2 linked regions of the Homo sapiens genome follow. The protein of the gene in region 1 interacts with the protein of each later gene in a pairwise test. Each region holds a gene or a part of one and is shown in the gene's direction. Other genes may lie near its edges.

Evidence for each region.
Region 2: the proteins of SRSF11 (region 1) and ETS1 interact in a two-hybrid assay, tested with the Homo sapiens proteins (one large-scale study listed by BioGRID and IntAct).

What each region holds. Positions count from the first base shown.
Region 1 is NC_000001.11:70,231,126-70,234,951, forward strand, and holds part of SRSF11 (serine/arginine-rich splicing factor 11), read left to right. Parts: exon of another isoform or gene 1-985; coding exon of another isoform or gene 986-1,142; coding exon 1,143-1,252; intron 1,253-3,570; coding exon 3,571-3,663; intron 3,664-3,826. UniProt on the Homo sapiens protein: May function in pre-mRNA splicing.
Region 2 is NC_000011.10:128,580,911-128,584,736, reverse strand, and holds part of ETS1 (protein C-ets-1), read left to right. Parts: exon of another isoform or gene 1-1,740; intron 1,741-3,826. UniProt on the Homo sapiens protein: Transcription factor. Directly controls the expression of cytokine and chemokine genes in a wide variety of different cellular contexts. May control the differentiation, survival and proliferation of lymphoid cells.

The sequences.
Region 1 (3,826 bases):
CCAGGCCCTGCTGAAAATACCACCCAACAGTTTTCTTCTGCAGCTTATCCAGTTTCTCTTAAGTGCCCTGTACATATTGTATGTTTTATGATGAGATGCAGTTTCTTAATATGTATTACAGAAATACTACTGGTATTTGCAAATATGTAGTTTAATTGTATTATTGAACTCTCATTTTGGGGGCTTGGGCACATTAACAGATTAATCCATCTGTATAGGGCTTTTGCTGTTGGATAGAATTTAAATTGTCTACATAAATATTTGTTTTAGGACCCTTAGATTTTATCTGAATACACAGATTAGGCTTTAAAAACAGATATATATGTCATTTTTGGCTTAAGGAGTTTGGCTAAGTTAGCTTTTCAACTGGCACTGTATGGCAGCATTTTTTGGTATGGTTAGCATGGCACATGGCGAAACATAAAGCATTTTACTGTACAGGTAAGGAATGTGCCATGTTGTTTTACCTATCTCTCTTTCTCTCTCACTCCCATGCACACATCCTGTGTGTATTCAGAGACCTTCAGAAACATTCATATTCATTTTCATGAGTCAGCAAAAGCCCTACGCTTGATTCCAACAGAATATTTCCTTTACATACTTTCTTCTCTTAATTTTTACAAAATTTGTATGGTAGGTGTAAAAGAAAATCATAGTAACTGTACCATATTATTAACCCCTAAATCAAACTTTTTTTGTCTTGTGTATCTTGATTTTTCTGTGTGCTTTATAGTGAAGCAGCCGACACGAGTCGTTGTTCATAAAACAGCTTTTGAAAGTTGAGAGCACACCCCTGGAGAACCGACTGTGCTTGCTTACGTTTGGTTCATGACTTAAAAATCGAGTACAGGTGATGAAATCTTGGCAGTGTTAACAAAAAAGTAGTGTGTATTGTGCTATTTTTTTTTACTCTAGAAACTTAACCATTTGTAGAGAAAAAGGAAACAAATTTTCACACATTGAAGTTCATTCTGACATAAAATTAATGATAAATAATCATAGAAATCAAGCTTTGTATTTTAGCGAACATAAGTACTTTCAACAAACTCAGGTGGTGTATCAGGGAGACATTTTCTGGGTGTTTTTGTGTGTTTTCTGTCTTAGAAAAGAATGTGTTCTAATGCAAGGATGTTTCTCTGCAGGAGTTATTCCTGATGAAGCTAAAGCTTTGTCTCTGTTGGCACCAGCTAATGCAGTGGCAGGTCTTCTGCCTGGTGGTGGACTCCTGCCTACTCCTAACCCACTTACCCAGGTACTAGTTCTATTGAATTCTTAAAGGGTGGGGAAAAAAACAGAATTGTGCATAAAGCTAAACATATTTGAACTTTGTAAGTACTCATAAGATTCTAGTTCAGATAGCATTATCACATGTCTATATCAAAATCACAAATAGTATAGAAGATCTCTTAGACTTTTGTATTTTAAGAACATTCTGAAAAATCATAAAATATCTGTTCTGTCACTTTTACCATTGGCTCTCAAAATAACCCATGAGTAGTTTTGGAACAGTCTCCTGAGGCATGAACACTTCTCTGAACACACTGTTAAAAATATATTCATTTGGACCAGGAAAGAAAACTGAAGTTAAAATTTCACAAGTGAGCCCTTCATTTTTTTTTCCTTCCCCTTTATCTTTTCCTGTTATTTGGGGGGTTTTGAATTACATAGGTGGCTTGAAAACAAAGGCAATTCTTGATGGAGATGTTTGATATGGGAATGTGAAAGAAAATTGGTTGCAATAGTGTTTCTAACACTGACAGTGCTGTACGAAGCTTATTTTAGAACTAAAAGGCACTTTAAATACTGTGTATTCTAATTACTGAGATTGTAACTGGTCAGTAGTTTCAAAGATTGTAGTGAATGAGCCTCAACTGGAAATTTATAAAAGCATTCTTTCTAGTGTATCATTTTGCCTGTCTAAATAATTGACTAATTGACTCTTAACTGTGAAGTGCACTATAGAATGAAAGATTAGGAGTTCCTAAGCTTTTTAGGTGTGACTTTTATCACTTAACTCCTAGGTTATTTCTTTTAACCTATAAAATGAGGATCTGAGTAATTTTCTTTATTCTTTGTTCTGTTTTGTTTTGTTTTTTTTTGTTTGTTTTTTGTTTTGTTTGTTTTTGTTTTTTTGAGATGGACAGAGTCTCGCCCTGTCACCCAGGCCGGAGTGCAATAGCACAGTCTCGGCTCACCGCAGTCTCCACCTCCCTGGTTCAAGCGATTCTGCCCCAGCCTCCCGAATAGCTAGGACTACAGGCATGCCACCATGCCTGACTAATTTTTGTATTTTTAGTAGGGATGGGGTTTCACCATGTTGGCCAGGCTGGTCTTGAACTCTTGGCCTCAAGTGATCTGCCCACCTTGGCCTCCCAAAGTGCTGGGATTACAGGCGTGAGCCACCGCGCCCAGTCCAGATCTGGGTAATTTTCTAAATTCCTTTAATGTATAAAGCTATGCAATAGCTATGTTGGACAGTAAGTTAAAATAGTATTAACACAGCATTTTGCCTGTTACGAATAAACAGTTAAATTATAGAAAGTTTGATAGTTTGTGTTTACTAAATAAATTGAAACAAGGAGAACTTGTAGCACAGGTGGAGAAAGTGAGGCTGTTTCAAAAGCTACAGATGGTTTTAAAGTAGCCTCACTTTCATGGTTTGTGTCTATTACATTATGGATTAATCAGAATTGGTGTCAAGCAGGTGGCAGAACCCTGCAGTGATTTGAACAGGGAACATTTAAGGAATTACTAACTAGTTATAGGAGATTACTAGGGGAACTCTAATGAATACAGGAATCACAAGTATAAGAAACAACCACTACCTCTGAGGCTGAAGCAGAAGGAACACCCATTTAGTTCAGGGGACTCCTCTTTCCCCATCTATGCTGAAACTTAGATTTGTTTTTGGAAGGGTGACTAGTAAATAAGTTCTCTTGGGTGCCCTGGGGAGCTGCATAAGGAGTTGGTATTAAAACTTACTGAGAGGCGAGGGCTACTGGGTGTTTGACATGGTGCTGCAGGAATAATCAGAAAGGGGACACAGCAACCAGGAAGAGCCCCTTTCTTAGTCAGTGTCCTTCCAGCACTCTTTCCAAATGAAGTCTTATATCATGGCAACTGTCAAAGGAGAAATGCTTTGTAAAGGTCCTGCCTCCGGTAGCACAAAACAGCAGGGCAAAGAATAGTAGATTTGGATCCTGAGAAGCAATAAATAATTAAAATCAGCACAAGAATATGTTGAAATATTTTGTCTTTTTTTCTTAATCTAGGATTTAGGGGGGAAATGTGTTGTAATGGGTGGAACATGGGTGTCATATAGAGCAAGACTCCTATTTCTGTTAATAGATTGTTATTGGACCACAGCCATTTGTTTAGGTATCGTCTCTGGCTGCTTTCAAGCTATGATGGCAGTAGTTATATGGTTTGTGTACAACTGAGGAGTTGTACGGAGACCATGTAGCCTGAAAACTCAAGTTGTTATCTGACCCTTTACATTAAAAAAGTATTAACCCCTGGTATAAGGAACTGAAATGAAGTTTTAAATAAATAAAATTTGCCATTTCACAGATTGGCGCTGTTCCACTGGCTGCTTTGGGGGCTCCTACTCTTGATCCTGCCCTTGCTGCACTTGGGCTTCCTGGAGCAAACTTGAACTCTCAGGTATACCTTAGTAACTTCAAATTTTTCACCCATTTTTACAGAAGATCTGTTTCATTAACTGTTGGTTTGCATTTCAAGAGCAGAAGCTAATGGCTATGTTGTAGTAATTTTTTTTCTTGTTTAAACTTGTCAGAGCTTTAAACAGTCACTGAATGACTAACTC
Region 2 (3,826 bases), on another chromosome or scaffold:
GGAAAAATTAGATGTGAAGACATAACTTACTTTTTGCTTCCTCATCTCCTTTATCCCTGCTGTACTGAAAGTATAGCTTATTGAACTCCACCTTTTAATGTAGATGATTTTCTAGTTATCATATCCATTCTTCTTCATTTCACCTAAGGAGGAATACTCAGCCCTAACGTTTACTGAGCACTTGGTATGTTCCAACATCCTTGCTAGGTGCTTTGCAGGGACTGCTTCATTTAATCTACAATGAAGTTTTGAGGTGGGCACTCCACTCTCGTCATCCCCATTTACCAGGTGGGGACTCTGAGGCTCAGTCATATGACCGTGTTAACTCATGGTGGACCCTGATTAGAGCCAATGGAATGTGAACCCAGAGCTTGTGATTGGAACTGCATGTCATAGGAATCTAAGTAACTCTAAGACATTTACACAAATTTAGGATAGATTTTTCTGCTTAGACTGATTTGCTTATCTAGGAGAACACTGGATTAAGCCTGTTTTCTGAAGTGGTATCTGTGGATTACTTATTCATTGTTATGAAGATACTGACTTTGAAGAAAGACTACCCAGGCCTAGTTTCCTGGGTAAGTAAGTCAGTCCCTTCCCTGACAAATATCAGTTTTATTTCTACTCCATGCCCAGCCTTGTGCTGGAGACCATACCAAACACAGAAGAAACAATATGTAAACTCCATTTTTAAAATTAACACAATAATCTTTACTAGAAAAGAGGATAAAAATGAAAGACAATATAATTATTAAGTAGTGTAGTATAACCTATACATGCTTTGGGAGTTCAGGTAGAAAAAAATGGTATCTAGAGCAGTGAGGGAAGGATGTTTCTGATCTGCCTTTTTTTCAAAAGAGGATAGATTTCATATTCCAGTAATCAAGTGTTGGAGCTGCCTTCAGAACTTAGAGGGAACAGGCTGGGTAGTACTTACTAGCATGAGAGTAAGCAACAAACATTTAGTGCAAATGTCAGGAAAATATTCTCAATGGGGAGGAAAAAATATATAAATTTTCAAGAGATGTGGAAAGGTAGAAAACTCCAGAATTTTGGTCTTTTTAGAGATTTAAAAGAGATTTAGTCTTTTTAGAGACTTAAAAAAAACTTTTCACTTTGAAATAATTCCAGATGCATAAAAGTTTGCAAAACAATGTACAAAAAGTTTCCAAAACATGTGAGTCTTTTACAATTGTAAAAAAAAACATATAATGCAAATAACTCTTTTAAATTATCTCTTGGCACCTCTTGTAATCCTTAATCCAAATGACTTCTGTTGATGGGAGAAAGCACCATTGCCAGTTTCTTGATAAAAGGGACCAAATAACTAGAACCATGTCTTCTTAGGAAAAGCAAGAAGTCTTGGCAGATGTGCATCTGGCATATGGCTCCTGAGACACTGACAGGTCCTGAGCTACTCAATTCTCCCCAGCCGGGTTTGTATTGCACCTGAGGTTACCAGCATCTGCTCAGCCTTGGCACAGAAGTCTTGCCTGTTCCTCCTTGGGCTCTGCCTCCTAAACACCTACCTTGTTATAATCACTCATGAGTTCAACCAAGTTAGTCCAGCGCTGCCTTGCTACTCACAGTGAAGTCCTCTGACCTGCGGCATCAGCACCACGTGGGAGCTTGTTAGAAATGTGGAATGTCTGGCCAGACCTCAGACCTACTGCAGCAGACTGCATTGTAACAGGATCCCCGGGTGATTCATATGCACATTACAGTTTGGGAGGCACTGCTCTAAAGAAAAAGCAAAAACAAATGAAAAAGCAAAAATGAAAAAAATGAACAAACAAGAAATCTTGCACTATTTTCCGCAGTGCTTTACTACTTCCTTATATTTGTATCTAGTTGCTAAAGCGTAAGTCCACAAAAGATCGACATTATATCAAAAAGATGTTGGTTTAACTCAGGAAGCTGCAATATTTCACCATTTGTGCTATGCAATCTTTCAATGAGTTAGTTCTCCACTGTAAGAAAAATGCTTACTTCTTGGTTTTATGCATAACAATGGTACAAACAGACTACCATTAAACAGAAATTGTGGCTCTTTTCTCCTGCAAAATTCTTGACTAATGCTACTCAACCTATGATTATGAAAGGGAATCCTGTTTTCATGACTTGAATACAAGTCTTTAGAAAAAGAGATGAGAGATTTAGCTATCCATGTTCTAGCTCTAACACTTAAATAACCTCTGCCATGTTGGGCAGTAGAAAAAAGTAATTAATATAAAACAGTAGTGTTACTAATTAGTGACATTAGTAAGCATTTACTAATGCTTACTAATTGCCAGGCACTACTGATAAAATAGCAATAATAACAATTATTATTTATTGACCATTTTTACTATTTATACAGCATGCTGCTAAGTATTTGTGTTTTGTATGATCCTCCTCTATAATCCTGAAAGTGTTGATATTATTACCTGCATTTTATAGTTGAGGAAACTGATTGTGAGGTTAAGAAATTTGCTCATGGCCATACACGCAGCAAGCAGTTCTACGTTCACCCATAGTATGTAACTCCAGGGTTCTTGATCACTGCTAAACACGTAACCTCTTAGGACTCAGTTCATTGAAATAAATGAGAAGATTGATGAATTTTTTCCAACTCCAAAATTCACTGGAATTGCACAATCCCTCTTTATATAAGAATGCTAGCAAGCTGTTTAGCATTATACTGAGAAATTGGAACCTTACATTTCGGGTAATAAAACAAATGAAACTCCACCATGAAAATCACAATCAGACATAGTCCAAGAAGTTGCTTGCTGGATTTGAGAGATCTAAGGCAGCTGGTATCTTTTAGTTCAATTTTAAAGGGGCATTATTGCAACTATCCAGTCCCCTCTCATTGTTCTTGTAATATCTCTTTCTATTTATGGTGCCTCTCAGTTTTGTTGAGAATTCCTTTAGAGCCAGAGCCAAGTCTAAACTCTAGATTATGTCTGACATGCTTCACAGGCTAAGAGTCTGTAATGTAATTCTTTAAAATGCTAGTCTCTTCAGAGGTTTCATTGGCAGCATTCATTGGATTAGAGTTGACGTTTTTAATCTCGTGGCCCTTCTTTGCATTTGACTTGGAAAACAATCTCTTATTCCATGGCCTCTATTACGACCATTCTTGGAAAGCAAAGAGTACTCTACATTATTCCTCCAGCTTATTCTTTTTTTGTTTTGAGGTTCGAAGTAAAACACAATCCTTATTTATTTATTCAGTTATTTATGAGTACTTACCATGCTTCTGGCTCAGGAGTACATCCTAAGGCCAAGTGTGATCATTTGTTGAATTTCATGGTAAAATACAGGATTTGAGGCATAGCATTTGTACACAGGCTATGGCCACTTTTATGGTAAGGCAGTGTATTGAATATTACCTTTGATCTTCAGGAAGATGTTCTGACAGAAGTATGATTGACTAGAAAGTGTAGATTGTTAGTATTTCAAAGGTTTCAGAGACTAGAATTGGCATTTTCTTAGTTAGATTCCTAGACCTAAGAGTCGGCAGGTTTTAATGTATTTCCTTGATGCCTAGGAGAAGCAAGACCTTTCTGTCCATTGTTGACAATGCCATTTCAGTACTGTATGGTGAGGGATTTGTTTCCACTGAGAAGGAAATGCATAAAATAATCTATGAAGCATTCCTTATTTCTTAACTGCTATGGTATACCAGAGTAAAACATCTTCTAGTCTTTCTCTTTTTCAGGAGATAGTAGCGAGTTACTCCTCAAGGAAGGGTAAAACAATATACTCTTTAAAATTATAATGACATGAGTTCATTTTAATATTCTAAGAAGGATTCGTTGAGCTATGTCAATTCATACAG